Linked DNA regions of Homo sapiens: all the other regions are reported to be linked to region 4. The links are microRNA targets in miRTarBase. Many come from high-throughput screens and were not tested one by one. Region 4 holds a microRNA gene; each other region holds the end of a gene's coding sequence.

Region 1 (7,328 bases), not on the chromosome of region 4:
GGCTTGAAGGAAACGTCACTTGCCGCAGCTATGTAATCATGCCAAGTCAGAACAACTCAAGCCTGGGAGGGACTTCTAGGCCTCCTAGTCAGGCCAGTAGTTCCTCATTGCTTTTCTTCCTACAGCACATTTGCTACCATATCATGTATTCTACACAGGTTTAAAAACCCTAGTATACTTTTCAATTTTAGGAAGCCAGCAGTAATGCCACCCTTTTCCCAGTTACTCAAAAAAGGAAAAAACTGGAATGTAAGTGTCATTAGATGGCAAATGTTGACCTGTACCATCCATTAGGGAAACTTAAATTCACAAAACTTGTTTTTTTTTTTGTTTTTTTTTTTTTTTGAGGCAGAGTGTCGCTCTGTCGCCCAGGCTGGAGTGTAGTGGCATGATCTTGGCTCACTGCAACCTCTGCCTCCCGGGTTCAAGCAATTCTCCTGCTTCAGCTGCCTGAGTAGCTAGGATTATAGGCATGCGCCACCATGCCCAGCTAATTTTTTTGTATTTTTAGTAGAGACGGGGTTTCACCATGCTGGCCAGGCTGCTCTTGAACTCTTGATGTCGTGGTCCGCCTGCCTCGGCCTCCCAAAGTGCTGGGATTACAGGTGTGAGCCACTATGCCCGGCCTACAAAAATTGGAATTTTATTGCGATTACTTTTGGGTGCTTTGCTACTGGAATCTTGGTAAAGTATGGTTAAGACCTAGTCTAAATCCCCGTGAGAATGGGGAATTTTCCCGTGACTGCTAACTAAAGGTCTAGCCTCTGATCGAGCACTTGGATTGATGAGGAGGAACTCACTGCAACATTTTAAGACAATTCATTCCACAGCTCTCACTTTTGGAAAATCCTTACTTGTCAGTCTTTAAGTCCTACTGACTTTATCTTGTCAACATCTCTAATCCAGCTCTTCCACCCTATCCCCTCTAGTTACAACCTTAGTTCAGGCTCTGGGTTTTCCCACCTGGACTGCTGTAGCTGCTGCCAGACTGCATTCCTTTCTCCCATCTCCCACCCCTTCAATCCAGGTTCCAAGTCACCCTTCTAGTCACATTTGCATCAACACTGCAACACTTTTCTAAGACACAAAACCTGATCACTTCCCTGTTTAGTTATCTTGGGTAGTCTCCCATTCTCTAGAGGAAGCAGGTCTTGAAGGATCCTTCACAATCTGCCCCCCACTTGTCCTTCCAGCTTTATTTCTGGCCAGGACTCCCGTGAACTTAAGCATAAATATCAGTACTTGTAACGTGCTTATAAGGTCTGAAAATGAAATTGTTTCATGACGGCCTTTTCTTACTTTTTCTCTGCAATGTCTTACCCCACTCTCATCTGCCTGGCAAATGCACAGGAAAGGCAAAACAAATAGGCAACAAGTACAAGCTGCTTGGACTATAATCACACACTTGCAGGGTGACCTTTGATAGGTTAACAATATCTGTCTGCTTCAGTTTCATCAATCTGTAAAACTGGGTGAGCAAAGTGGACTACTTTGTAAGGTTAGTAGGTGGTCTGAGGTAAAAGTATTTAGCATACCCACTGGCGTTTAAATACTCCAGAAGCAGGTATTGTTAGCTCCTTGCAAGTGTTCAAGGGTTGCCTTCTCCATGCAACTTACCCGACTTCCTCCCCCAGGTTACCATTAGCCAGTTCCTTTTTTGGGCAGTGGGAACTAAACCCAGTACACTTATTTCTCTCACAGCACTCCCCACATTTATTATACTACAGATGCTTTTCAGCTTATAATGGGGCTACATCCCAATAAACCCAACAAAAGTTGAAAATACCGTTAAGTGAAAAATGCATTTAATACACCTAGGCTACCTTAAACCTACTCAGATCACTTACATTAGCTTACAGTTGGGCAAACTCATCTAACACAAAGCCTATTTTATAATAAAGTGTTGAATGTCTCATGTAATTTATTGAATACTGTACTGATTGTATGGATACTTGAAGTACTGTTTCTACCGAATGTGTATAGCTTTTGCACAATCCTAAAGTTGAAAAACTGGAAGTCAAACCATCATTATGTTCAGGCCCATCTGTATTTCTGACCCCCTACTAGACTAGCTCCTTGAGGGAAAGGGCCAAAGCCCTCCAGCATTTAGCACCGGCCTTGCATATCTAATAGAGGTTCATAGTTCACTGAAATGGGGTTGGGGGCAAGAGTAGCCAGAAATTGGCCTTTTATTTCCTACTTACTGATCATGGGTCAGCTTAGCTGGGGTGCAAAAGTATAGTATGTATTTCACTGGACCATCCTTGAACTTCCCAAAGCCATGTCCTGTTTCCTCTTGTCTTCTCTAAGCTAAGCATTCTTAGCTCCTTCAAGCTTCTTTTCCTTGACACGATTTGTCCTCTACATCTTAGCCTTCCTCTGGCAGAGGACTCATCTGTCAGGGAGCCTCCGGTTGAGCACCAGAAGGGAACATGGCAATGAGGATCACTGATAGGCACAGGAAGACTGAAAGGACCTTCCACACTACCCTAGACAACCTGTTTTTATTATCTCATCCTAGAACCACACTGGAGTTTTTTTGGACACATTAACAGTTCCTGGCATAATAAACTTTTTTTTTATTTTAAATTTTAAGAGACAAGGTATTGCCACATTGCCCAGACTGGTCTCAAACTCTTGGGCTTAAGTGATCTGCCCTCCTCAGCCTCCTAAAGTGCTGGGATTACATGGGTGTGGCACCACACCTGGCCCTCCTGGCATAATAAACTTTATTTTTTGAGACAGAATCTTGCTCTGTTGCCCAGGCTGGAGTGCAATGGTGTGATCTCGACTCACTGCAACCTCTGTCTCCCAGGTTCAAGTGATTCTCCCGCCTCAGCCTCCCGAGTAGCTGGGATTACAGGCACGTGCCACCATGCCCAGCTAATTTTTTTATTTTTAGTAGAGGCGGGGTTTCACCACATTGGCCAGGCTGGTCTCGAACTCCTGATCTCAGCTGATTTACCCACCTAGGCCTCCCAAAGTGTTGGGATTACAGGTGTGAGCCACCACACCCAGCCATTAAACTCTTAGTAGCACACAATACTGTTAGTGACAGCACAGTACTCTATAGTCCTCAACTCTGCACAGATGTTATTATCAATCTGCATTTATTGAAATGTTACATTTAGATTCTGCTCATTTTTATAGTTTGTAATGGTATTTGTTTGGATCCTAAATTTGGATTCTAAATTGTCATCCTTCCTAAGGGTTTCTTATTATCTAAAAATTTGATCAGCACTCCTAATTTACTAGTACTATCTCTTGTGTAAATGGCTTCAAATTCTTTTGTGGAATGGGTAAGGCATAAAAAAAGTCATCTGTCACTAATATCAAAGGAGGGGCCAAGGACACAGCCCTGGGGGAACTTACCAGGTCAACCCACAATGGGTGAATTTATAGTTTGTTAGTTAGTGGTCAGTTACCAACTTCTCTGTCTGTCTAATGCTTTGACTAAAATGTCCAGATTATTTACCTAGTTAACAAAATTAAAGAAGATTCTAAGACCAGTTTAGCATCATTTTCTCTGAAGTCCATAATGAATGTCTGTTAAACTCTCGTCACTCTTATTTAGGTGCTTTTGGGTCATTTGTTGTAGGTTCATTCTCCCAAATCAATGTCACATATACGTCTGTAACTTGTGTTATCAGCTTCCTTCCTAGGGCTTTAACTTCTTTTCAGTCTTATAGCATTCCTTCCATTTTCCTTTCAGTTCACTCCAATAAAAGCTCGACAAACTCCTGGGAGCCCCTTGGTGCCCCAGCTGCTGTTTACCAGTCAGGAGACTAAAATGTCTCAGAGCAGCTAAGTGCTCTTTTTTATTTTTACCTCATTTGTCTTACCTTGAACTTTTTAGTTCCTTGTAACCACTTAGCCCTGCCCTTTTCAGACTGAAGCTAGTTCTCTTTGGCCAAAGACAGGAGACAAAATATGGTCTAGAGTTTCTGTCAACATGTACTGGCCTCCAACAGATCTTTTTTCTTCCTGCTGACACTGGACACAGTCTCTCCACTCTTTTTCTCATCAACAGAATGGGAATATCCACTCTGTGAACCTGTTATAAAGGTTAAATGGGATAATGTATATGAAAATGCACTGGAAACACAATTAAGTACCTGCACATCGAGGGGTCCAAGACCTTCTGCTCTCACCCACAGCCGAGTATCTGTTAGCCAGGGGTAGCCCTTAAGTGTTACTAGGGCCCTTTCCTCAGGACTCAAGTTCTCCTGAGGCAGGATGCCCAGTCCTCCCCCAAATCAGCATGAGAGCAGAAAGGACCCTTGCCAAAGGATTTAGGACCACTTTTGGCACTAGATATAGAATGTTTGTCTAATTAGCAGACGCAGAGGGACCCCCATCATTCTCAGTCTGTGTGTGGGAGCCTTAAGCCTTCCCAAGCTCAGCAGTTCAATGCTACTGGCATGAGACCATTCTTTTGTGCCAATATCAGAGGCTGACTTGGCCTTATGCCTTTAGCACCAAATCCGACTGGCACTGCCTTGAGATAAACTATGGAGTCTGCAAGGCCGAGGGTGGTTTTCTCAGCACCACTTGGTCAGATCTGCCATCATTTCCCCAGTATCAGCAACTCCCACAATGCCATGTGAAGCAGCAGGGGCACAAGCAGTTAGCCTCAGAACCTGGCTGGCATGGGACGACTGTGAACATGCCCGCAGGCTTCTCAAAGGTAGTAAAAACTTTTAACTCTACTTCTTCCAATCTCAGTCATGGAGGTTGAACACTGGGGACACCTAGTGGCATGAAGAAATTACCAGCTACAATATCCTTGGGGCCATCCCCTTGAGTGGAGATTCAGATTCACTTTATATTCTTTCTCTTTTTTTTTTTTGAGACAGAGTTTCGCTCCTCTTGTTGCCCAGGCTGTAGTGCAATGGTGCGATCTTGGCTTACTGCAACCTCTGCCTCCCAGGTTCAAGCGATTCTCCTGTCTCAGCCTCCCGAGTAGCTGGGATTACAAGTGCATGCCACCATGCCTGGCTAATTTTTGTATTTTTAGTAGAGACAGGGTTTCATCATGTTGGTCAGGCTGGTCTCGAACTCCTGACCTCTGGTGATCCGCTGGCTTCGGCCTCCGTAAGTGCTGGGATTACAGGTGTGACACACCACGCCCAGCCTATATTCTATTTCTTCTTTGTGAGAATATCAATCTAAAGAAATATCCTGTGGTTATTAAAAATGGGGCACCAGATGTGGGCACTACCAAAAAAAGGGGAACACAGGTTTCATCTTTCTCCCCATGATTTGTGTGTGTGTGTGTGTGTGTGTGTGATTGAGTCTTGCCTTGGAATGCAACGGTGTGATATCGGTTCACTGCAACCTCTGCTTCCCAAGTTCAAGCGATTCTCCTGCCTCAGCATCTCAAGTTAACTGGGATTACAGGCATGCACCACCATGCCCAGCTAATTTTTGTATTTTTAGTAGAAATGCAGGTTTCACTGTGTTGGCCAGGCTAGCCTCAAACTCCTGATCTCAAGTGATCCGCCCATCTCAGCCTCCCAAAGTGCTAGGATTACAGGCGTTAGCCACCGCGCCCAGCCTCTCTCCATGATTTTCTAATCCTCATTTACTCTTTGAACCCCAAACAGACTAAACTTCCCAATTAAGGAATCTCCCTTAAAAATATTTGATTAAACAATGCCAGTTCTTTAAGAATCATTTCAGGCTATGTTTGCCAAGACACACTAGAATGTTTAGACAGGCTCCACCTAATCCTTTCCCCCATTACTTTTACTTACCTTCTAAAGGGAATAGAAGGCAAACAGGTGCTGAGACACCTTATACCATGCAACTAAATTCATTTGTAAAGATTACTTTACTGTCCTAGAAAAATACATGTTGCAAATTTGAGGGCTACAACTTAAGCACTTTAGAGGCTTCCTGAGGGAAAGGGGATAACCTTTGAATATCAGACTCTGTGGTAATGTGTGGGAGAGGCATATTAAATATAGTTGGGTCAGGTGGATTTAAAAAAAATCCCTTTTCCCCATTTTTTTTTTTTTTTCTAAAAAAGGAAGATCAAATTGCCATCTGTCTGGCTTATTTTGTGTGTGCATGTATATATAGGAACAGCTTGAGGGGAAGGGTTATGTCATGCAATGAAGCAAAAACAAGACGACCTCCTCTGACAGAGGAGCCTTAGTGTTGTAGAAGAGAAGCAAGGCTGAGGTCACTGGAAAGGCTTAGAATGAAGCTGCTCTTGCCTGTTCCTCCTGAGAACCCAGAGCAGCAGTGGTCCAGGGCACAAAGCATAATGATCTCTCATGAGGATTCCTATCTGAACACATCAGAAGTCCTATGAACATAGATAGGTCTGTTTTAGAATATAAATGGTAGTGACTTCCTGCGCTCCTGAGGCGGGGCAAAATAATCCATAAACACATAATCCTTCTGGGCAATAATGTTTCTGGACTCGCCAGCAGAGGGCTCTAGGAACAGAGGTGGGGGTAGAGTCGGGGAGAAAAAAGGTTCTAGAGATGGCATGTCTTCAGGGGAACTTTGAGAAATGTCCTTTGTTCCAGCATTCCTAAGTGACGGCACCGGTGAGCCTGGTCTGAATTGTCATCAGTGTCACTGCCGAGGCCAAGGGCCAAGGGTCAAGATGCCACTTTAGGTTGAGAAGAAAGTGCATCTCAAGGCCAGTGAGGGCTGCAAAATGGTTTGCGGCTGGCCCAGAAGGAGCAAATGTAGAAAGGCTCCCCTTTTTAGATGCCGATGGTCTGTAGAACTCGCCTCTCATTGTCATTAAGGTGGCCTGAAAACATTATGTAGCAGGGCTGCTGAGCAAACTGGCAGAGGAAATCTGTGAGATATGCCTGGAGGAAAGAGCAAGAGTGGCATTAGTGAGACATTGCAAGTCACCCATTTGCAGTGGAGCAAGAACCACAATCAAATGGCACAGGGAATGCTGGTTTTTAGACAAATGCCAGCTCCCTGAGGGATGGTCTTTCATGTTCTTGGATCTAGTTTAGGTAATCCACAGGGAAACAACATTTTTCCAAGGCTGTATCACCCCAAGGACCTTCACAACATAGCCTCTAGAAGATGAATTACAACACATCAAGTGCAAAGTTCCAGCCCACCCAAAACCCTGGACCACTCAACAAGACAGGAACTCTTTCCCATGAGGCTCCCATGTTAAATTATAAATGGATTTTTTTTTTTTTTTGAACACAGGGTCTTGCTTTGTCGCCCAGGCTCGAGTGCAGTGGTATGATCACAGCTCACTGCAGCCTTGACCTCTTGGCCTCAAGCGATCCTCCCACCTCAGCCTCCCGAGTAGCTGGGACCACGGGGGTGTGCCACTATGC
Region 2 (7,297 bases), not on the chromosome of region 4:
GGGTACGGTCTTTGGCGTTAGCGCTTCTCCCATCCCATGAGTGCCCCCAGCAGAGTCCAGTCGGACTGTCATCCTTTCTGCGACTCTGGCGCTGGTCCCGAGCAGCTCACGGGCCCGTGTGCTTCCGGGTCTGAGATTGGCATGGTGGACCAGGTGGAGGGTGTGGCCTCTACTAGGAGGCAAATTCGTAAAGACCTCGGCTTGGGACTCCGGGAACTCGGGCCCCAGATCCTTGTTCGAGCTGGTCTTCAGTTTCCCCATCTGTACGCTGAAGAGCCTGGGGTCCAGTAACCCCCATCATCACCCAGTTTACAGAAGAGGAAACTGAGGCCCAGACGGGGAGCAGCTGACACCAAGTCGTTAAGAGAATCAGCGAAGGGGCTGGGAATCCAGGACCTGCGCCTTTTACCCACCGCGGCGCCGGTCTCACGTGCAGTCCCTTCGCTCTTCTCCCCTAGTTCGGTGCCATGGCGTCCCAGGGTCGTCGGCGGAGGCCCCTGCGGAGGCCGGAGACGGTGGTGCCGGGGGAGGCGACCGAGACGGATTCCGAGCGCTCTGCGTCCTCGTCGGAGGAGGAGGAGCTGTACCTGGGTCCTTCGGGCCCGACGCGCGGCCGCCCCACGGGGCTGCGGGTGGCTGGGGAAGCCGCGGAGACCGACTCGGAGCCGGAGCCGGAGCCGGAACCGACGGCCGCGCCGAGGGACCTGCCTCCACTCGTGGTGCAGCGGGAATCGGCGGAGGAGGCCTGGGGCACGGAGGAGGCCCCGGCGCCCGCCCCCGCGCGCTCGCTCCTGCAACTTCGGCTGGCGGAGAGCCAGGCGCGGCTGGACCACGACGTGGCGGCCGCCGTGAGCGGTGTCTACCGCCGTGCAGGCCGCGACGTGGCCGCCCTGGCTAGTAGGCTGGCGGCAGCCCAGGCGGCGGGGCTGGCGGCGGCCCACAGCGTGCGCCTGGCGCGCGGGGACCTTTGTGCGCTGGCCGAGCGTCTGGACATCGTGGCTGGCTGCCGCCTGCTGCCGGACATCCGCGGCGTGCCAGGGACCGAGCCTGAGAAAGACCCGGGGCCGCGGGCCTAGCCATGATTCTACTTCCCAACCTGACTGCAATTTGGGGGTAGGCCTTGCTGCCTCTGGGACCTGACTCTGTCTCCTGTGTCTCTTATCACCCCCCACCCCCGCTCCCATCTTGGTGTCACCCATGGGGGCTAATCCGGTCCCCTTGGATAATGCTTTATATTGGATATAGTTCAACCCCTACTGCGGAGACCAGGGCCCCACTATCCTTAGATCTGGTTCCTCTCCCGATCCTGACCCTGCCGCCTGGTTCTGAGCCTTCCCCTGGGGCTTGGCTCCAGCCTTTGTTACATAGTTGCTCCTTAATCTGTTTCCACCCTGGGGGCTCACCAATTTTTTTTTTTTTTTTTTTTTTTTGGAGACAGGGTGTTTATCTGTCACCCAGGCTAGAGTGCAGTGGCGGGATTACTGCTCACTGCAACCTCGACCTCCTGGGCTCAAGTGATCCTCCCAGCTCAGCCTTCAAGAGTAGCTGGGACTGCAGACCTGCACCACCACGTCCAGCTGCCCGGTTAATTTTTTTCTGTCGGTTTGAAGAGGGGAGAAGGTCTCACTATGTTGCCCAGGCTTGTCTCAAACTCCCGGGCTCAAGCAATCCTCCCACTGTGGCGTCCCAAAGTGCTGGGGTTACAGGTGTGAGCCACCACACACTGGGCTCTGCTCTGCCTTTCTGAGTTTGGTTTCTGCTTATGGTGGGGAGCTTGTTCCCGTTCTTCCCACAAGAACCCAGGATGTGGCACAGCTTCCCTGCCGTCTTCCTTCACTCAGTTGGCTACGCCTCCCATCCTAGCTCCACTTCCAGAACTGCCTTCACCCTAGGCTGGGTCCTTGTTTTGTTTTTAGAGACAGGGTCTCACTGTGTCTCCCAGGCTGGAGTACAGTGGCGTGATCTCGGCTCACTGCCACCTCCACCTCCCGAGTTCAAGCGATTCTCCTGCCTCAGCCTCCCGAGTAGCTAGGATTACAGGCATGCACCACCACGCCTGGCTACTTTTTATATTTTTAGTAGAGATGAGGTTTCACCTTGTTGGCCAGGCTGGTCTCGAACTCCTGGCCTCAGGTGATCCACCCGCCTCACCTCCTAAAATGCTGGGATTACAGGCGTGGGCCACTGCGCCTAGCCAGCTGGGTCCTTGTTCTGCTGCCCAAGCTTGGCCCTGGTTCCGTGTGCTGGTTCTACTTTTTGTTCTCCCATCTGCCTCCTGCCTCCTCCCCTTTGAGCTTAGCCCCGCCCTCTCAGCCTGATTTCTGTTTCCCAAGTCCAGCAGTGTCGTGGGATAGGTTTTGCTTTCTTTTACTGTCTCCATCCTACTTACACCTCCCTGATCCTGGGGTCTGGGGACTCCCCATGGTTTCCTTCCTTCTGCAGGCCCAAAATGATGGCCCCTCTTAACCCAAGGCAGGGGATCTTCCTCCCAACTCCCTGGACCAAGGTGGCATTTCCTGCACACCCCTCCAGGCCAAGATGATGCTCGCTCTCAACTCTGTAGGCCAAGGTGGCGTCTCCTCTTGACTCTCCAGACCTAAAGTGACACCCTTCAGGCACTTCGGGCCCAATTCAGCCCAGTCCTGGTGCTTTCAGCGCCAGATGACAGCACTTTGCAGATAAGAACGATATGATGTGTGGATTTCACTACATTTGGCTCCTGGATGCTATAAAAGGACTTGGATTTCTGACTTGGCTCAGGGACTGGGGTTAGCAGTCTCTTTCTGCTCCTTTTCACCTGTGTTTTCTTCCGATCCCAGCTCTGGTCCCTCAGCCGCATTCATATTTACTCTCCTCTCCCAGCCTGATATCCCTGTCCCTCATCTCAACCCGAAGCCAAGATCTGAGCCCCCAAGATGGAGAATGGGGAGGAGCTTTTTATGGCGGACTGATTAAAACTCTTAAGCATTTACCCTTATGGTTAGTTCCTTTTGTTTCCCTATCTAAGCTAAGGGTGAGTTGGTTGATTTCTCTGAGAATGGGGGTCCCGAGACCTCCATGCCTGGCTTATGGAAGGTGAAGCTGTAGTTGGGAAATCAGGGGCCCTAGATTTTTGCCCTGGTTCTGTATTTACTCGTATTTTATTAATTCAACACACACGTTTTGGGTACCTGACCTGTGCTGCGGCTAGGGGTATAGCACCCAGTCCCTGCCCTCACAGAGGTCGCAGTCCAGTGGGAGAAACAGTAATAAGATGTTCTCATAGATAGTTCTAGTAATCATAATTTATAGTTTAATTTTTAAAAATAGAGATGATAGCCTGGCCAACATGGTGAAACCCTGTAGTTATTAAAAATACAAAAATTTTGGGCGATGTATCACGCCTGTAATCCTAGCACTTTGGGAGGCCGAGGCACGTGCTAGTAATTCCAGCTACTCAGGGAGCTGGGGCATGAGAATCGCTTGAACCCTGGAGGCAGAGGTTGAAGTGACCCAAGATCGTGCCACTGCACTCCAGCCCGAGCGACAGAGCAGGACTCTGTCTCAAAAATAAATAGGCCAGGCGCAGTTACGCATGTCTTTAATCCCAGCACTTTGGGAGATCGAGGTAGGCAGATCACCTGAGGTCAGGAGTTCTAGACCAGCCTGGCCAACATGGTGAAACTCTATCTCCACTAAAAATACATTAGCCAGGCGTGGTGGCACATGCCTGTAATCCCAGCTACTCGGGAGGCTGAGGCAGGAGAATCGCTTGAGCCCAGGAGGTGGAGGTTACAGTGAGCTGAGATCATGCCACTGCACTCCATCCTGGGTGAGAGTGAGACTCCATCTCAAAAATAAATAAAAAATAATTAATTTTAAAAAATAAAATAGAGACGAGCTCTCACAATGTTGCCCAAGTTGGTCTTGAACTTCTGAGCTCAAGGGATTCTCCTGTCTTGACCTCCCAAAGGGCTAGGATTACAGGCATGAGCCACTGCACCCAGCCATAATTTATAATTTAGATACAATTTTCTTGGCACCATGATTAGAGCCATGAAGAAGTAAAGGAGCTTTATGAAGGTGGAGCGGGATCCACCTGACCTAATCTGGGCGGGAGAGAGGAAGTGATGAGTGGTGCTGGAGCTGAGCCCGGAAGGTGGAAGTAGGTGAAATGGGAGTAGGGTGAAGAGTTGCAGACAGGGAGAACAGCATATGCGAGGGCCCTGAGGCAGAAGGGAAAGGGACCATAACCTGTTTAACAGAAGAAGATGATTTCTGCTCTCCACCTAGAATGGAGAAGTGTGGGGTGGTTGTGGGGCAGGGGGGTGCTGAGTGCAGTACCAGAAGGGGCCAGATAAAGGTGAGCTTTAAAAAAATTGTATTATTGGCTGTGCGCAGTGGCTCACGCCTGTAATTCCAGCACTTTGGGAGGTCGAGGCAGGCAGATCACCTGAAGTCAGGAGTTCGAGACCAGCCTGGCCAACGTGGTGAAACCCTGTCTCTACTGAAAATATAAAAATTAGGCATGGTGGCACATGCCTGTAATCCCAGCTACTCAGGAGGCTGAGGCAGGAGAATCGCTTGAACCCGGGAGGCAGCAGTTGCAGTGAGCCAAGATTGCGCCACTGCACTCCAGCCCAGGGGACAGAGCAAGACTCTGTCTCAAAAAAAAAAAAAAGTAGGTGCGGATCAACCAGCATCTCCTCCCTCCTGAGCACTCCCTCCAGCTCCCCTTCCACACCTAGGGCGAGTGGATCACAATTCAAAGAGGATGATCTCCCAGAACTTCCCTTTTCTTTTTCTTTTCTTTTCTTTTTTTTTTTTTTTTTTTTTGATATGGAGTCTCACTCTGTCGTTCAGGCTGGAGTGCAGTGGCGAGATCTCAGCTCACTGCAACCTCCACCTCCCAGGTTTAAGCAATTCTCCTGCTTCAGCCTCCTGAGTAGCTGGGATTATAGGCACGTGCCACCATGCCCAGCTAGTTTTTCTATTTTTTTTTCTTTTTAGTAGAGATGAGGTTTCACCATATTGGCCAGGCTGGTCTCAAACTCCTGACCTTGTGATCTGCCTGCCTCTGCCTCCCAAAGTGCTGGGATTACAGGCATGAGCCACCACACCTGGTCAGGACTTCCCTTTTCAATGAGTTTAGCGAGAGTCCCTGAGGAGCTGAGCTGCCTGGGAGAGTGGCAGCTTAGTGGTCTCATGGTGGACTTCCAGCCCTGGAGCACAGAGCTTCCCTCACTCCTTAAACTCCAGCTCACTAGCCAGGCCTGGCTTTCAGCCCCTTTCTTTCTTTTTCCCTCCCTCCTTCCTTCCTTCCTTTCTTTCGGTGGGGTCTCACTATTTTGCACAGGCTGGTCTTGAACTCCTGGCCTCAATGGATCTTCCCACCTTGGCATGGCAGGGATGGGAATCTGATTGGAGAGGGTACAAGAGGGTGTGGAAGGAGAGCCAGAGACCATCCTCTTTGCAATGTTGAGTGAAGGGGTGGGATGGTAAGAAATGGGGAAGTGGCAGTGCATGGTGGCTTACACCTGTAATCCCAGCAATTTGGGAAGCCAAGGTGAAAGCACTGATTGAGCCCAGGAGTTTGAGACCAGCCTGGGCAATATAGCGAGACCCCATCTCTACAAAAAATACAAAAACTAGCTGAGCGTGGTGGTGTGCGCCTGTGGTCCCAGCTACTCGTGAGGCTGAGATGGAAGAATCACTTGAGCCCAGGAGGTCGAGGCTGCAGTGAGCCATGATTGTGCCATTGCACTCGAGCCTGGGCAACAGAGTGAGACCTTGTCTCAAAATAAAAAAGGGGCCGGGCGTGGTGGCTCACGCCTGTAATCCCAGCACTTTGGGAGGCCGAGGTTGGTGGATCACGAGGTCAGGAGATCAAGACCATCCTGGCTAACATGGTGAAACCCCATCTGTACTAAAAATACAAAAAATTAGCTGGGCACGGTGGCGGGCACTTGTGGTCCAAGCTACTCGGGAGGCTGAGGCAGGAGAATGGCGTGAACCCGGGAGGTGGAGCGTGCGGTGAGCCAAGATAGCGCCACTGCAGTCTGGCCTGGGTGAAAGAGCGAGACTCTGTCTCAAACAAAAAAAAAAAAAAAAAAAAAAAAAAAAGGAAGGAAGGGAGGGAGGGAAGGAGGGACCGACTGGGGAAGTACCTAGATGGGGAAGATGGGAGGGGTCATGGCATGTTTGTATGCTGCTGGGAGTATTTCAGAAGAGGGAGAAGTCGTGATACAGGGGAAAGGTGGGAGAAAAGCCAGACCATTGTCCTGCAGTAGGTAAGAAGGGAGGAGGAGATAGCCCCCAAGGGGAAGGGCAACACTGGGGTAAGAGAGACTATTTGTGGCTAGTTGCAAGTCACTGGGTAGTGATGACCACTCTGGTCATCACTGCCTGGGAACTGGTCTGTCACCCCCACTGGACTGTTGGCCCCATGAGGACGGGGCTGAGGCTGTCTTGGCCAGGGCCAGCTAACCCAGGGAAACCACAGAGTAGATACTGGGCAAATTGTTTGTTGAATGAATGAATGGCCTTCACACCATCACACGGCATCAGCCTCTCAGATGCATGGAGCTGTTGAGACGTTCGGGCACAGCCTCCCTCCAAAGGTGATGGGCACTCGGTCCCACATAACACATCACCCTCAGATGTGCAGGATGAGAGGGTCAGACATGCACCAAAATGCTAATAACACCCACTCCACAAATATTTGCTAACCACATTTCAAGGGGAAAGGCATTCAAGGCAGAAAGAATAGCATGTGCAAAGAACCAGAGGCAGGAAAATCCTGGGGGTGCTTGTTTGGGCGAGATGAATTGTCTGTTGTGCATGGACTGCTATAGAGGGGCCTTTGGCAGGAGGGAGAGCTGAAGACTCAGTCAAGAGCCAGGCCACACAGGGCCAGAATGAGGAGCAGGGCTTTGTCCCAAGGGCCCTGGGGAGCCAAGGCAAGTTCCAAGCAGGAGAGAGGCAGGGACGAGTTTGTGCTTTAGCAAGAGATACCTAGATGGGTCAGGTGCGGTGGCTCATGCCTGTAATCCCAGGCCTTTGGAGGCCAAGGCAGATGGATCACCTGAGGTCAGAAGTTCGAAACCAGCCTGGCCAACATGGTGAAACCCCCGTCTCTACTGACAATACAAAAATCATTCTGGGCGTGGTGGTGTGCACCTGTAATTCCAGCTACTCAGGAGGCTGAGGCGGGAGAATCACTTAAACCTGGGAGGCGAACATTGCAGTGAGCCAAGATTGCGCCACTGCACTCCAGCCTGGGCAACACAGCAAGACTCTGTCTCAAAATAAAAAAAAA
Region 3 (7,328 bases), not on the chromosome of region 4:
TCAGAGAGGTGCAGTCCTTTGCCTGAGGTCACACAGCTAGTAAGAGGCAGAGCCGGGATTTGAACCCTGGCAGTCTGGCCCTAGAGCCCCAGCTGTTAACCATTAGGCTTTATAGCCCCAGTTATAACAACAATAATAATACTAATACAAGTGAACCTTCACTGAGTGCCATTTATAGATCAAGCACTATTCTAAGGATTTTAAAGCATATTTAATTCTCACAGCACTCTGATGAAGGAGGTATTCATTTTACAATTGAAGAAACAGAGGCCTAGAGACATTGAGTCACTTGCGCAAGGTCACACAGCTGGCCAGTGGCAGAGCCAGCCTTTGAACCTGAGCCTTCTGGTTGCAGAGCTACGGCTTTTAGGCACCGTGCTGAGGGCCTCCAGAATGACACAGATGTGGCCTCGAGTTACACAGGGAGGCAGGTTGAGGGTGACCCCCACCAGGCCTACCCAAGGCTGGGTATTAATAATCACAGTGCATACACCAGGCCCAGGGAGGTTGAGCCACTCATCCAAGCTCACACAGCAAGCTCACAGCACACTCAGGCTGTCATGCAGCCTGGGCTACCCCCTTAACCCTGCCTGGCCCCTGCAGCCAACAGAGACATGGCATCCATCGTGTCTGAGATCATGATGTATGTGCTCATTGTGGTGTTGACCATATGGCTCGTGGCAGAGATGATTTACTGCTACAAGAAGATCGCTGCCGCCACGGAGACTGCTGCACAGGAGAATGCGTGAGTAGGGTGGCTGGGAGGTGGGAGGGCACCCAGGGCACCGTCACACTTGCCAGAGAGGAACTCCGGAGCCCGGGCAGGGAGGAGGCAGCGGAGCGGCCCAGGGCGCCATCTCTCAGTACTACCCAGAGGGGAGTGCTCCCTGTCAGACACAGGATAGGGGTCGTCAGACCCAGCCCCTTCCTCCCTCCAACTCAGGAGCCCAGGCTCCCAGCCAGATTCCTCAAAGACCCTGAGGAGTCCACCCATAGACTCCTTCTCTCTCTAACTAAGGAGCCCTGTGTACCTGGGGTGGAGACCGCTACCTTCCCCCATCCCCCGGGGGTTGGGTCGGTCTGATGATGGGGTCACTGTATACCTGGCCTTTCCCCCACAGCTCGGAATACCTGGCCATCACCTCTGAAAGCAAAGAGAACTGCACGGGCGTCCAGGTGGCCGAATAGCCCTGGTAAGGCGGATGGGCTGGCAGAGGGGAAGGGGATTGGGAGGGGCCGAAGTCCCCCAGGTCCCTAATTCCCCCTCTCTTGCTCCCCTTCAGGCCCTGGGCCCCGCCTCAAGGAAGAGCCAGCCGTAATGGGGACTCTCCAGGCACCGCCTGCCCCCAGCGTGGGGGTGGCCACTCCTGGGCCCCAGAAAGCCTCAGAGTCCTGCCGACGGAGCCACTGGGGTGGGAGGGGGCAGGGGGCTTGGCTCGCACCCCCACTTTCGCCTCCTCCAGCTCCTGCCCCGCCGGCCGCGCACCGCCATGCATGATGGGTAAAGCAATACTGCCGCTGCCCCCACCCTGCTTCTGCTGCCTGTTTGGGGAGGGGGGCGGTGAGGTGGGGGCAGCGGCCCCGCACCCCTCCTCCTTGCTGATTTGCACACATTGGCCGCTTCAGACACGCACTTCTGGGGCCAGCCCCTCCCCGCCTCCTCCCTGCCTGGCGGCAGGGGTCGCGATGATGGGCTGGAGCAGTTTGGGGCAGGGGGTTCTGGGACCCACTCCGACTCCCCCTCCCCGGCATCATTTCCCCTCCCGCTTCCTCCGGCTGGACCTGGGGTCCCCCCTCCCTGTAATGCACTCCTGCCCCGGCCCAACCTCGCCCTCTCTCACCAGCCTTGAACTGTGGCCACCTAGAAAGGGGCCCATTCAGCCTCGTCTCTTTACAGAAGTAGTTTTGTTCATGAAATAAAGACTCTTGGACTTGATGCATAGTTTCGATTGTGAGCCCCGTCACCTTCCCCCCATTCCCGTCCCCGAATCTTCGAGCCCGCTTTCCAGGGACCCTACCTGAGGGCCCACAGGTGAAGCCACTTAGTGCCTGATCTGTGTCGGGGTTGGGGGAGCCATGGGCTCAGGGGTGAGGGAGAGTGGAACGGAGCCAGGAAGGGAGGGGGTGCCGTGGAGGGAAGAGAATCGAGGCTGATGCTGGGGTGCAGGGGTGGCATGGGGTGTGTGGTGTGCCCAGCAGTGTGAGTCTCTGGAGAGGTGGGCGCTGGGGAGAAGGAGAGGGAAGGAGAGACGGGTATGGATGGAAAGGCAGAGGAAGCCAGGCTAAACCAGCGTGTCCCAATGAGGGGCCCTGGGCTGAGTGGAGGAAATGGGTGCGGTGGAGGTGGGTTTGGCTGGGCACAGCGGGCACGTGTGGGTAAGCGGGTGGGGCCGGTTGTGCGGGTGGCCTATCTGGGGCAAGCAGCCGAGGCCGACTGTGTCCGGCGTGTGGTTGAGCACGGGCAGGTGTCTGGCGGTGACCCTGCACGTCTGGTGTTTACCTGGCCCTGGGTCTGACGTGGGCCGCGCCTGGCTGCTGGCGGGACAGTGTGTTATCTGCCTGCGGACGCTTCCGGCCACTTGGCCTGGGCCTCTGCCCTTAGCGCTGTGTTTTCCCGGCCAAGCCCCCCATCCCCCCTATCTAGTGCTAGGACTTTCTGGCTCCAGAGGTCACCGCGGCCGGGCGGAGGCTGCCAAAGCAAACCAGCCCCGTGACTTGTAGGAAGCCAGCGGGGGAGGGGCCGGGGCAGGATGAGCAGGGCAGGCGGGAGAGGCTGGGGCTGGGGTTGGGGCCCAGGAATTGGGCAGGGAATTAGGCAGAGGTGCAGCAAGTGGCGGGCACAGCCAGGACCTGGGGCTGGAGGACGCAGAAAGGGCGGGGGGAAGGGTTCGCTGGGTGAGGGTGGAGTGGGCTTAGGGCAGCTGGGGCCCTCCATCTGATCTCTTCTGGTCAGACCCCCACCCTTCAGCCTGCACTTTCTCCCTAAACCCCCAGCCTCCGGCCAGGCCTGTCCCTGTTCCCACATCCCCGCAGACAGGCACACCTGGGTCCCCCTGGAGGTCCAAGGCAAGCCCCGTAGCTGGGCCCGCCTGGTCCAGCCCCCACAAGCCCGGCCCCATCAGCCAGGTGGCCTCCAGTGCTGCCAATCGAATGGTCCGGCCCCTCCCCGCCCCTTCACCCGCCCCTCGCCCAGCCCCCTCCTCCTCAGGTGAGGCAGCCTGGCCTAGCAGGCCCCACGCCACCGCCTCTGCCTCCAGGCCGCCCGCTGCTGCGGGGCCACCATGCTCCTGCCCAGGCCTGGAGACTGACCCGACCCCGGCACTACCTCGAGGCTCCGCCCCCACCTGCTGGACCCCAGGGTAAGGACAAGGGCCCCCAGACTCACAGTTCCAGCCCTGAGGACAGGGGTTCCCTCATCCCCCCACCCAGCCTAATGCCCACCTCCTAATAGAGGGGTTCCTGGGGACCTGAAGAGGGGGCACTATGACGTCCCCCCAAGCACCTAGGTGTTCTGTCCTGCTCTTCCTTCAGACTCAGCCGTTGGACCCCAGTCCTTTCCTCCCCAGACCCAGGAGTTCCAGCCCTCAGGCCCCTCCTCCCTCATACTAGGGAGTCCTGGCCCCCAAATTCCTCCTTTCCCAAGACTTATGATTTCAGGTCCTCAGCTGTCTCCTCCCTCAAACCGGGATCCTCAGTCCCCTGCTCCACCAGGCTCAGGCATGGGGGTCCCCATCCCTGCAAATCCAGGCGTCCCCCCGCTGCTGGTCAGACACTGACCCCATCCTTGAACCCAGCCCAATCTGCGTCCGTGATCACGGCGTGCTCTGGCCAAGGCCCAGTCCCTACAGCCTGCCTGGATGGACGCCTGGGACTGGGGGCGCCAGGACTGGGCTGGGCTGGGCTCCCCCAGGCCCTGCCTCCCCGTCCATCTCCTCACAGGTCCCACCCTGGCCCAGGAGGTCAGCCAGGGAATCATTAACAAGAGGCAGTGACATGGCGCAGAAGGAGGGTGAGTCCCCTTCCCTGAGCCCCAGCTTTGGCTCTGCCTGGCGCCCCGCCCTCTGTGCTCTTTTCTCTACCCTCTACTCTTCGGAGCCCCCTCTCTCTGGGCACCCCTCCCAGATGCATCCCCACCCCTGTTAGTCCTCCTCCACCTGATTAACTATTAACCACATTTTCTGTGCAGCTGTGCCACCACCAGCCTCCCTTCTACCCTATGTGACCTTCCTGGCGTGCTGCCTCAGTTTCCCCTCATCCCCCAGTGATTTCTCAGCTAACTCTGGACTTGTCCTCTGCTGGGGCTGAGGCGGGGAAGCTGTAGCTGTCATGGTTAAGGACACAGATTTGGAGTGAAACACACAGGCTTGCATTTGAATTTGCTCTTGCCATCTTTTTTGCTGTGTGATCTGGTGCAAGTGACATTATTCTTAGGGCTTTGGTCTCCCTCTGGGTCAAGCATGGATACCAGTCCTCCCTCTGTGAGGTTGCTGAGTGCATGACACACACCAGGCACTGGTCTGGGGCTCTGCATATAAGACGCATGCCATCAAGCAGAGCTGTCATGACAGAGGTTGGCAAACTCGGAGTCCCAGAGACCCAGGACCCCCACCGATCCCAGACATTCCTCCACCTCCTGGCTCTGTGGGCAAAAGAGCAGAGGGAGGACTTTGGACTGGGCCTGGATGGATGGAGAGGGGAGAGACGGCAGAGAAACCACCATAAGGATGAGAGAGAGAGACTGCGTCATGGAGTTGCTGGCCCTTGGGAGTCTCTGGGCAGCCCCCAGCTAGCCTGGCTTCCTTTCTACCTCTCACACATGGGACCCAGCTGGAGGGGCGCATGGAGGGGCGTCCTGTTCTTTCTGCCTTCCCCTAGCTGGGGCTGACTCCCTCTCTTCTTCCGCAACCAGGATAGCCGGGCTCAGTCCTGGGCAGTAGCACTTTCTAGCTGTGTGGCCCTGGGCAGACGGCGTGTTCTCCCTGGGCCTCCATTCTCTCATCTGTGAAATGGAGAGGGTGACAGTGCATGTCCAACAGCGTGGGGCGAGGCCTGAAATGCCAGGATGGGCAGGAAGCACTGAGCGTGTTGGCTGAAATGATTAGTTCAGATCTCTGGCCTCCTCGGGTCTCGGCACAGCTGGCAATTCAGACCCCAAACCAATCAGCTGCAGTCCAGAGGGAACCCAGGCTCCCAGTTACTCAGGAGAAGGCATTGCACCCTAGCCGAGCAGGTGGATGACAGAATCCAGCTCCTTGGGGACAATCTCTTTCCTGGAGCTGCCGGAAGGACAGCCCCAGGGCTTGGGCCCATGGGTGAATGAGCCAGGGAAGAAAAGCAGAAAATGCCCGAATGGACAGAGATGGCCTGGGTACAAAGAGAAACAGACACAAAGTGGGCTCTGGTGCCTCCCTGGCAGCTCCGGGCTGGTCTTGGAGGGGAGTCCTGCTGTCAGGGCTAGGGGTGTGGAGGTCGAACCTGGACACAGATGCTGAAGGGTTCCGATTCTGCACTTACTTGCCGGGTGACCCGGGTTTGGTGGCTGCCGGACTTTGGGCCTCCTTTTCTCATCTGTAAACTGGGGGTGATGGCAATGGCGCCTTCCTCGTGAACAGCTGCAAGGATTTAAGTAAGGATGCTGTGCAGGACTGGACGGGGTTAGGGTAGGGCGGTGCGTCCGTGTGTGATTCAGAGAGCCGTTGTGGCTGCAGCGGCTGCTGTTGTTGGTGTCACTGTTATTGCTGCTGGCTTCTTGGTGCTGCCTGGAAACTTGGAATTGGAGGAGGTGATACTGGAGTTGCAATTCCAAGGATGCCAGGCAGAGGGAAGAGCAAGGCTCTTGCTCTTCTCTGGGAAGCTGGGAGGTGACACAGCACTGGTGTGCACGTAGCCAATTGTGGTATTTCTGGAGGTGAAGCTGGAAGTTGAGCTGGGTGGGAGAAGAGGTGTGCAAGCTGGACCAGGCAGGGGTGGGACTGTTTTGGGGAAGAGCTGGCCAATTCCTTGCAGTACCAGGTCTCTCCACAAGGTGGCGCCAGTGGTTAGTCCCTGCTTCTCTTGTCTAACTTGTATTTTACAAGTTCTACTGTTTGGGTTGCTTTTTGGAAGCTCTCTCTGGTACCTGATAGTGACCCACATGGTTGTCTGAGAATTGGGGGAAACATACTCCCAAATCTCTGAAAGCCATGCTTATACCCTAGTGGGGCTGGAAATGCCAGGCTGAGGGACTTAAGCTGTCTGGGGGGTACTAGGGAGTCACAGAGGGTTCTATAGGTAAAGAGGGGACAGGTTGGATTTGGTGTCTCAGTAGGTTCCCCAAGCCTCCGTGTGGAGGGTGCGCTAGAAGGGAGACTGAGCCCAGCGGTTGGATGGGGCCGGAGCAAGGTGCAGATGGAGAGAAAGAAGGAAACGGGGGAAGGAGAGTCACTCAGGAGGATTGGCAGGCTGTCGGGGGAGGGGAATGTTATGCAGATGGGGATGGTCCTAGGAGTGAGGGCCTCTGAGACAGGACCGGGAGGAAGAATATACTTGGGGAGACATTGGGGAGACATTCTGGGACCTGGTAGGGGCAAAGGGACTAGGAGGTCCCAGGGAAAGGTATTTAAAAGGTATTTAAAGGACTGCAGGAGCCCTGACCTGGGACCTGGAAGAGGGTCTAGGGCTGGGGACAGAGGGGAAACTGAGTCCACAGAGGTGGGTGAGACAGACTTAGGGGCAAGGAGGAGCAGGGGGAGGCTGCGGCCAGCCCTACAAACTCTGGATTTTACGGAGTAGGTAGAGGGTGGGTGAAGACAGCAGCCTCAGAGGCGGGAAGGAAAATCAGGTGCGCCTGGTGTCCCAGAAGTCCAAAGAGGAGAGCATTTATACAGGAAGCTGCAGTCATGTAAGATGAGGCCCGAGACACGGAGCCACCAGTTGAGTGGATTTTCAGAGCCAGAGAGCCAAAGGTGTTACGCGTGGGGGTCTTTGCAGCCAAATGGTGGAGGCGGAAGAACTGACCTATGAGAAGACCCAAGGCATCCAGAGGGGCCTGGAGAAGCAGGGGCAGAGAGTCTCAGGGAGATGTAGGGGTGGGGGAGGTCTGGCTTACCAAGGGAAATAGCCCTGCTGCTGGGATCAAAGAATTGATGTTGACGTGCCGCCTGTCCCAGTAGAGACACGCAGGGAGGATGAGGATGCGTCCCACACCCTGGGCCAGATGAGGATGCTGCCTGTCCCAGTAGAGACACGCAGGGAGGATGAGGATGCGTCCCACACCGTGGGCCAGATGAGGATGCTGCCTGTCCCAGTAGAGACATGCAGGGAGGATGCCTCTCATACTGGGGGAACCC
Region 4 (7,328 bases):
TGGGTAGTATGTATAAGGACAGCAGCAAAGGCCAGAAAATGCCATCCTTGTCAGCAATATCAATAGTGACAGAGATTCAGCCCTCCCTCTCTTTATTATCTGGTCACCCTGAGATGAAGCCCAACCACTGGCCCCACCAAGCTATCTTAATGGAAAGAATACTGGGCAAAGAGTTAGGAGACCATAAGTTAATCCCTGAGAATGTACTAAAATTTTCAATTAATAAATATTTCTTGGCTAGGCATGGTGGCTCACGCCTGTAATCCTAATACTTTGGGAGGCCAAAGCAGGAGGACTGCTTGAGCTCAGGAGTTCAAGACCAGTCTGGGCAATATAGTGGGAGCCTGTCTCTAAAAACAATTAAAAATTAGCCGGGCATGGTGGTACATGTTTATAGTCCCAGTTACTTGGGAGGCTGAGGTGGGAGGACTGCTTGAGCCCAGAAGGTTGGACCTGCAGTGAGCCATGACTGTGCCATTGCACTATAGCCTGGGTGACACAGCGAGGCCTTGTCTCAAAAAAAAAAAAAAAAAAAAAAAAAAAAAAAATTATTGAACATCTACTAAATGTTGGCCTTGCACTAGGCACTTGTGAAAAGGGTCTATCACTAATTTGCCGTCAAACCCTGGACAAGTCACCATCTCTTTTCTGAACCTTAACGTCCTCATATGATACATGGAAAAGAACCTCTATGTCACGGGATTGTGTTGTGATCAGATGTGCTTTGAACAATCTACCATATAAACTTGCAAATTTAAAGGTGATATTTTTGGGCTGGATGTGGTGGCTCACACCTGTAATCCCAGCACTTTGGGAGGCCGAGGCAGGCGGATCACCTGAGGTCAGGAGTTCGAGATCAGCCTGGCCAACAGAGTGAAAAAAAAAAAAAGTTTCTTTTTAAACTTGATTTGATCTTAACTAGAGGGCTTAGTAAAATGCAAGGATAGCCCCACTAAATGCCAAAGCCAACTTCCTCTGCCACTGTCTGGATAGAAATCCAGCAGAACATTCCTACCCCCTCAATTTTGTGATGGAGACGGTGACAGAGGAGCAGAAACTTACACATTCTCTTCAAACCCCTCTCAGGATCTTTTTTATATTACTGGTGTCAGAGCTTAGTTCTTAGTAGGAGCTGGACTGTGGGGACTGTGGGCCTACTGGATGAGTCCCCCAGATATAACTCAAATTTCTTACAGCAGGAAGAACAGAGTTCGACTTTGCACGGTAAGGGCACCTTTCCAGTTACTGAGATAATTACTTGACCCCTGGTCCTTCAACTGTTTGGAAACATCTGATGGCCATTAAGCCTGTTGTTTCCTCATTTTCCTGCCTACTGGGATAAACACATCAAAACAGAAAGCTTGATGCTCTAACAATGCTCTCTGATTAGTGGTTTGCAGGATCCTCTGTAATTTTAGGATTTGCTGGCTAGAAAAGGAACAATAGTGGAGTACAAATTATGGTGTGGCCTAGGAAAAAGTTAGGCACCCTGAGATTTAGACTTGGTTCTGCCATGGGCTGTAGACCTTGGTTAGAGACCTTAAGCTTCCCTCATCTTAAAAATTAAAGAACTGGACTGAGTCAGTTACATGAAATCTTCCACGGAAAACCAGGGTTCCTCAAGATGTTAATGAGAGTTCCTCAAAAAAGGGGCTCCAAGGTTAAATAAGAAGAGGAAATTTGGCATATTGCACTCTCAACTCGTTCCCAAGAGACACACACAATAAGGGTCTGCAAAGGCAGCGGTAAAGAAATTTACTTATTAGCATTATTCAATCTGATGTTTCCCAAATTATTAACATCTCTTCTGAGGAAGACACAATTTGAGGAAGACACACTGGGACAGATCTCTAGGGTCCCTGTCAGCTCTAACCTACTGTGATTTGCATCAGGAGTACTTAGCCAGTGCCTGGAGCACCCTGCTTCCCTTCTTATCCAGTTCTCTTAACCTAGTGAGGCATTTAAATGATACTCTGGTTAATGAGAATTTATTATATGTAGTCCATTTTACTGTAGTGAAAGTATCAGGCTGGGCGCAGTGGCTCACGCCTGTAATCCCAGCACTTTGGGAGGCCAAGGCACCTGGATCACGAGGTCAGGAGATGGAGACCATCCTGGCAAACACGGTGAAAACCCGTCTCTACTAAACAACAACAACAACAAAAAAAATTAGCCAGGTGTGGTGGCAGGCGCCTGTAGCCCCAGCTACTGGGGAGGCTGAGGCAGGAGAATGGCATGAACCCAGGGGGCGGAGCTTGCAGTGAGCGGAGATCACGCCACTGCACTCCAGCCTGGGCAACAGAGCGAGACTCTGTCTCAAAAACAAAAAAAAAGTATCAAATTTCAAAGACTCAGAGTGCAATATACTGAAAACGCTATCCTATGAGATAGGATACCTGCAGTTACTAAGCTCCTAACACATGTTCTGTACTGTGCTAGCATTTTCCATTAATTATATCATTAAATCCATACACAACCATAAGGAGTAGACATTGTTATCCTCGTATTACAGAGAAGGAAACTGAGCTCAGAGAGGCCAAGTAACTTGCCAAAGGTCACACAACTAGAAAGTGGCGAGCACCAGATTTCAAACCCAGGAGTACTCATTTTCCAAATCTTGGTTCTGTTTTGGGCTCTGCCACCATGACTATCAGATGGTCCCTAACTCTCTTTAAAGCTTCCTGGGCCTTAGTTTCCTCAACTGTCAAGTGGGAATAGTAATCCTTACACTGCTTCCCTCACAGAGTTGCTCTAAGGTTCAAAAGCAGTAACACGTATGAAAGGGGTCTGTAATATATAAAGATGTGAATATTAGGGGCATTTGAAACATCATGAATAAACGTTGCTATTTCTGTTCATGAATTTTAAGCTGTTTGTTCTTGCAAGGTTCCCAGTCATCCCTTCCCAAATAGTGCTCCTTAAAATTTTCATCAGGATTTTGAATAAACAGGAAATATGTCCATTTCTCTCAGTATTGATTACTCTCTAGGCTGTCTGACAGACTCACACTAAATTGCCAATCTGCTTCTTAGGAGTCAGGAGTGAAAACATCAGAGTGGGTGAGAGCCTGGTGGGAGGCCTGTGAGCTGGGAGTTATCTGAATAGAGATAGCATACTGGCTGTGGGGCTAGACTCCTCACCATCATCTTGGAACATGGCTGGGAAATAGGTCCAAAGGGTCATTTGGACAGCAGATCCCAGCAGCCTCTGTATGAGATCTGTCCAGGAGACTAACCCCATTATATGGGATGGCAAGAGGGGGAGGTGACTGGAAATGAGAAATGGGACCAGGCTGACCAGCTACACTCTCAGATAGAGACTACCCTGACAAGGGCCTAGGCACAGACACAGAAGTAGTTGGGTGCAGGGCTCTCAATTCATCCTTCAACCCTGCCTGATATCACATCCTCATAACCCACATTGCTGTGGCCATCTGCTCCCTCTAGTTTCTGGCAGATTAAGGCCAAAAACAACAGCAAAGCATTTTTGGATCAAGGTCCTGCCTGGGGACAGAGAAGTAAATAATACAAGTCCCTGTTCTTAAGTAAGGCACTAGACCAAGACGGTTTGAGCCTAACTAGAGGCTCTCTTGCATAGCAAAGTCTCTGGCACATGGGTTATATTCAAGAATTGTTTGAACCGAACTGAATCAAAGGAACCTACATTCTGCAAGTTAAGAGCACCTGTTTGGTGTCAGGAGCCCAAGACTTCTAGATTCAATCCTGGTTCTGACATGTACAATTCAGGGACTCTGGACCTCAGTTTGCCCATCTGTAAAGTGCACTTTGTCTACCCCACAAGTTGCTATGAGTAGCCAATGAAGTAGTGGCTCAGTAAATGGCACTCTGTAAATGGCATGAGATGGAACAGCAGGAGCTGATGGGAGCACGGGCGCACATGATCTTAAAAGTTTAGAGTCCAGCCTGAAGAAGACCTGAAATAAGCTCCTTTCTTTCTCCCCAGTCAGCTTAGATCTGCTTTTCAAACACAGCAGACATTCTCTGCATTTCTGGTGACTGTGAAAAGGGGAAGGGGATAATTTGCCACTAAGTAGGGGATAGAAAGAAAGGTTGCCATCTTTATACTTTTCAAAATAAGAGCACGGGATTTGGATTTATAATCCTAACTTTTGTTAATCAAAAGCTGTGAAACTATGAACAAGCCTCAACCTCTCTCAGTTTCCTCATCTGTACATTGTGGGGAAATTTCCTAAGTCATAAGATTGCAGTTAAGGTTCAATGAATTAATGATGTCAAAAGTGTTTTGAAATCCACAAAATGCCAAACAAACGCCAATCATTACAAAGTTGTCTGTCTTCTCATCAGTTTACCAGCTACATAGGACAGTGGTTATTTACCATTTGACAGGTGAGATCATCAAAGCCCAGAGAAAGTGCTTAAAGTAACACACAGCTCAATTCTGACTTCTTACAGCAGAGGTAACTGTTCCTTTACTACAGGGGTTCTTAATTAGCCTGCTTGCCTCATTAAACTGACAGATCTCTGAGGGAGGGGACTACATACATCTTACACATTTTTGTACCCCAGTGCCCATCATGGCACACCTAAAAGATGTGAAGTGTTACTAGAATGATGACTAACATATTGGTAGCAGAAACATATCTAGAACTCAGGACTCCTAATCCCAGATCCAGGGTTCTTTACAACCATACAGTGGCCCAAACCTCATAGACTCGGCTTGCCTTAACATCTCATCTCTTCCTCAATTCTCCACTCTAGCAAGATTCAACTTTCCCTTCAGAGCCTGGCTTTCATAGATGCCAAAGCCAGGCTCTGAAGGGAAAGCTGAATCTGGCTTTCATAGATGCCAGTTCCTCAGCCATAACCTTCCTCATCTCTCCTTGCTGAGCTAATTCCTATCCATCTCTCAGACTTGGAGGCCTTTCTAATCTCTCCTAATACTGGGTCAGGTATTTACTTTCCTCCATGGCTGTTTTGTTTATCACAGAGTCCTGGCACACAGAATGTGTTAAAAGTATCTGTTGAAGGCTGAATGAATGAAACACTGGGTGTAGAAATCCAAAGGTGATGCAGAGAAAATTTTTTTTTTTTTTTTTTGAGACGGAGTCTCGCTGTCTCCCAGGCTAGAGTGCAGTGGTGCGATCTCGGCTCACTGCAAGCTCTGCCTCCAGGGTTCACGCCATTCTCCTGCCTCAGCTTCCCGAGTAGCTGGGACTACAGGCGCCCGCCACCACGCCCGGCTAATTTTTTGTATTTTTAGTGGAGATGGAGTTTCACCGTGTTAGCCAGGATGGTCTTGATCTCCTGACCTCGTGATCCACCTGCCTCAGCCTCCCAAAGTGCTGGGATTACAGGCGTGAGCCACCACGCCCGGCCGCAGAGAAAATATTCTTGACCTGGAAGTCATGCAGCCTGACTGATTCTAATTCTAACTCCACTACTAATGCGTTTCGTGATCTTGAGCAAGTCCCAGTTCTTCTTTGGACCATCTATAAATGAGTTACACAGTATGATCTCAGAAGGTCCCTCCATTGTTAAAAGCATATGAGACTTAGACTCATGTGAAGTCCTAGGGATGAGGAGATTCCAAAGCCAGCTATATGCTCCATAGCATAGGAGACCCAACACTCTCATCCCCCCAGGAGCACGAGAGACACACGACTCTGCTGTCAGGAGCCTCCCAGCCCATTGGTTTACTTAATTCCTCTTGATGAAGTGCCAAGAATAAATCGTAGGTGAGCAGCAGAGCATTTTAACGAGTCCAGAGCCTAATGAATCTTTTCCTTCCTGTGTCAATTAGAATTTCAAAGCTAGGATCCCCAAGGACCAATTTATTGGGAACAGAGAGAAGAAGCCTTTTGTTCATCAGCAGCTGCCTGAGCTACCTGCTCTGCTCCTGTATCTCTGCTGTGTAACAATCCTGCTTACTCAGATATAACATCTGGCACAATAAAGCCTGGCCTGGAGGCTCCTTCTTGCCCAACATTTCTGGGGTCTGAACTTGAGGAAGGAAACAAGGGTCCAGGGTATTTCTGAGGGCAAAGGTGGGGTTGGGGGTTGGTCAGGGAATCAGAGCAGTGCTGACGTTGCTGCTATCTCCTAGGGATACTGGCCTTCAAAGAGCTAACAGCCACAGATCACCAGGCTACTCACCCAACTAAGTATCTGGTACTGTGTGGCACCTATTTACCTGTTATTTTAAATCCTCACAACCTCAAAAGCAGATATCAACCACATCATTTTAGAGAAAAGGAAAAAGAGGATCTGAGAGCTAAAGGATCAGCCTAAGGAACACAATTATTACAGTAAATGGCAGAGAAGGATTTGAACTCAGGTCTGTGCGACTCCGAAGACTAAAGCTCTATCAAACCAATACAACTCTGCCAGGAGCTGATGTCTTGAATGGCAGAGATGGCCCATGGTCAGCCATAGACACATTAGGCATTTGCCACCAACACACTGTCTTTTGCCCGGGCACATGCAAGAGTGGCTGCGCATCACCAGTCCTTCCATTCAATGGAGCTGGCAATCCTCCATCCCTAGAAGATAATCCAAGCAGAGTCACCATCAACACTGCCCCCTGCTCCTACCCCAGAAACCTTTTATTTGTGAGGAATTTCCAATTCTTGATCTAATGGCTCCCATGCACCCAGTTCTCCACCTCCCATACTGTCCGCTCTAAGTCACACAGGGCCAGCCCAGGTACTACTGCTCTGTATTCAACAAAGACACATTTTCCAAGGTCAGCAGATTAGCAAGTCAGGTTTCCAAATGTAACTAGTGTTGAATTTTAGGGCTCTAGTGTGAAAAACACATTAAGAATAGAGGTCAAGGCCAGGCATGGTGGCTCACACCTGTAATCCCCCCACTTTGGGAGGCCGAGGTGGGAGGATCACCTGAGGTCAGTAGTTCGAAACCAGCCTGACCAACATGGAGAAACCCCATCTCTACTAAAAATACAAAATTAGTCAGGCATGGTGGCACATGCCTATAATCCCAGCTACTCAGGAGGCTGAGGCAGGAGAATTGCTTCAACCCAAGAGGTGGAGGCTGCAGTGAGCCGAGGTCACACCATTGCACTCCAGCCTGGGCAACAAGAGCGAAACTCCATCTCAAAAAAAAAAAAAAAAAAAAAAAGAGTGGAGGTCCAGTGACTTGTCCAAGTTTACACAGCTAGAAAATCACAGAGCAACAACTGGAACACAGGTATATACTGAATCCTAACCTGGCCTCTATCTACACACAACAAGAATAACAAATATATAAAAAATGAGATCAGTGCTTTTTAAAAATTAACTTTTTATTTGGAGACAACTATGGAATCACTTGCAGTGGTAAGTCCTTTTA

The links. The annotated mature microRNA hsa-miR-4755-3p reads AGCCAGGCUCUGAAGGGAAAGU and lies in region 4 at 4,749-4,770, opposite strand. An mRNA with a match to its seed (bases 2 to 7 or 8) in the 3' UTR can be bound and repressed. Matches are read on the target gene's strand: a 7mer-m8 pairs with bases 2 to 8, a 7mer-A1 pairs with bases 2 to 7 and ends in A, and an 8mer does both.
Region 1: the mRNA of IPO9 is a reported target of hsa-miR-4755-3p. Seed matches in the 3' UTR shown: 7mer-m8 at 5,465-5,471, 7mer-m8 at 2,927-2,933 and 7mer-m8 at 536-542.
Region 2: the mRNA of BLOC1S3 is a reported target of hsa-miR-4755-3p. Seed matches in the 3' UTR shown: 7mer-m8 at 2,055-2,061.
Region 3: the mRNA of SCN1B is a reported target of hsa-miR-4755-3p. Seed matches in the 3' UTR shown: 7mer-m8 at 1,667-1,673.

The regions. Positions count from the first base shown.
Region 1 is chr1:201,875,449-201,882,776 of GRCh38, reverse strand. It overlaps IPO9 (importin 9), which reads right to left. Exons shown (of 24, transcript NM_018085.5): 24 at 1-6,833. The coding sequence ends at 6,723. Among named protein-coding and RNA genes, the nearest start is that of SHISA4, 9.8 kb to the left of the region's middle. RefSeq lists an enhancer at 1-470.
Region 2 is chr19:45,178,830-45,186,126 of GRCh38, forward strand. BLOC1S3 (biogenesis of lysosomal organelles complex 1 subunit 3) reads left to right here. Exons shown (of 2, transcript NM_212550.5): 1 at 1-2; 2 at 459-2,971. The coding sequence starts at 468. The coding sequence ends at 1,076. Among named protein-coding and RNA genes, the nearest start is that of BLOC1S3, 3.7 kb to the left of the region's middle. RefSeq lists enhancers at 1-201, 742-1,242, 1,668-2,169 and a silencer at 552-861.
Region 3 is chr19:35,038,514-35,045,841 of GRCh38, forward strand. It overlaps SCN1B (sodium voltage-gated channel beta subunit 1), which reads left to right. Exons shown (of 6, transcript NM_001037.5): 4 at 604-745; 5 at 1,122-1,193; 6 at 1,284-1,936. The coding sequence ends at 1,188. HPN (hepsin) reads left to right here and starts at 3,208. Exons shown (of 13, transcript NM_001384133.1): 1 at 3,208-3,359; 2 at 3,940-4,009. The coding sequence starts at 3,994. RefSeq lists an enhancer at 1,840-2,679.
Region 4 is chr20:34,046,604-34,053,931 of GRCh38, reverse strand. MIR4755 (microRNA 4755) reads right to left here and starts at 4,813; the gene lies at 4,742-4,813. The region is part of intron 2 of RALY (RALY heterogeneous nuclear ribonucleoprotein); the gene reads right to left. RefSeq lists an enhancer at 7,314-7,328.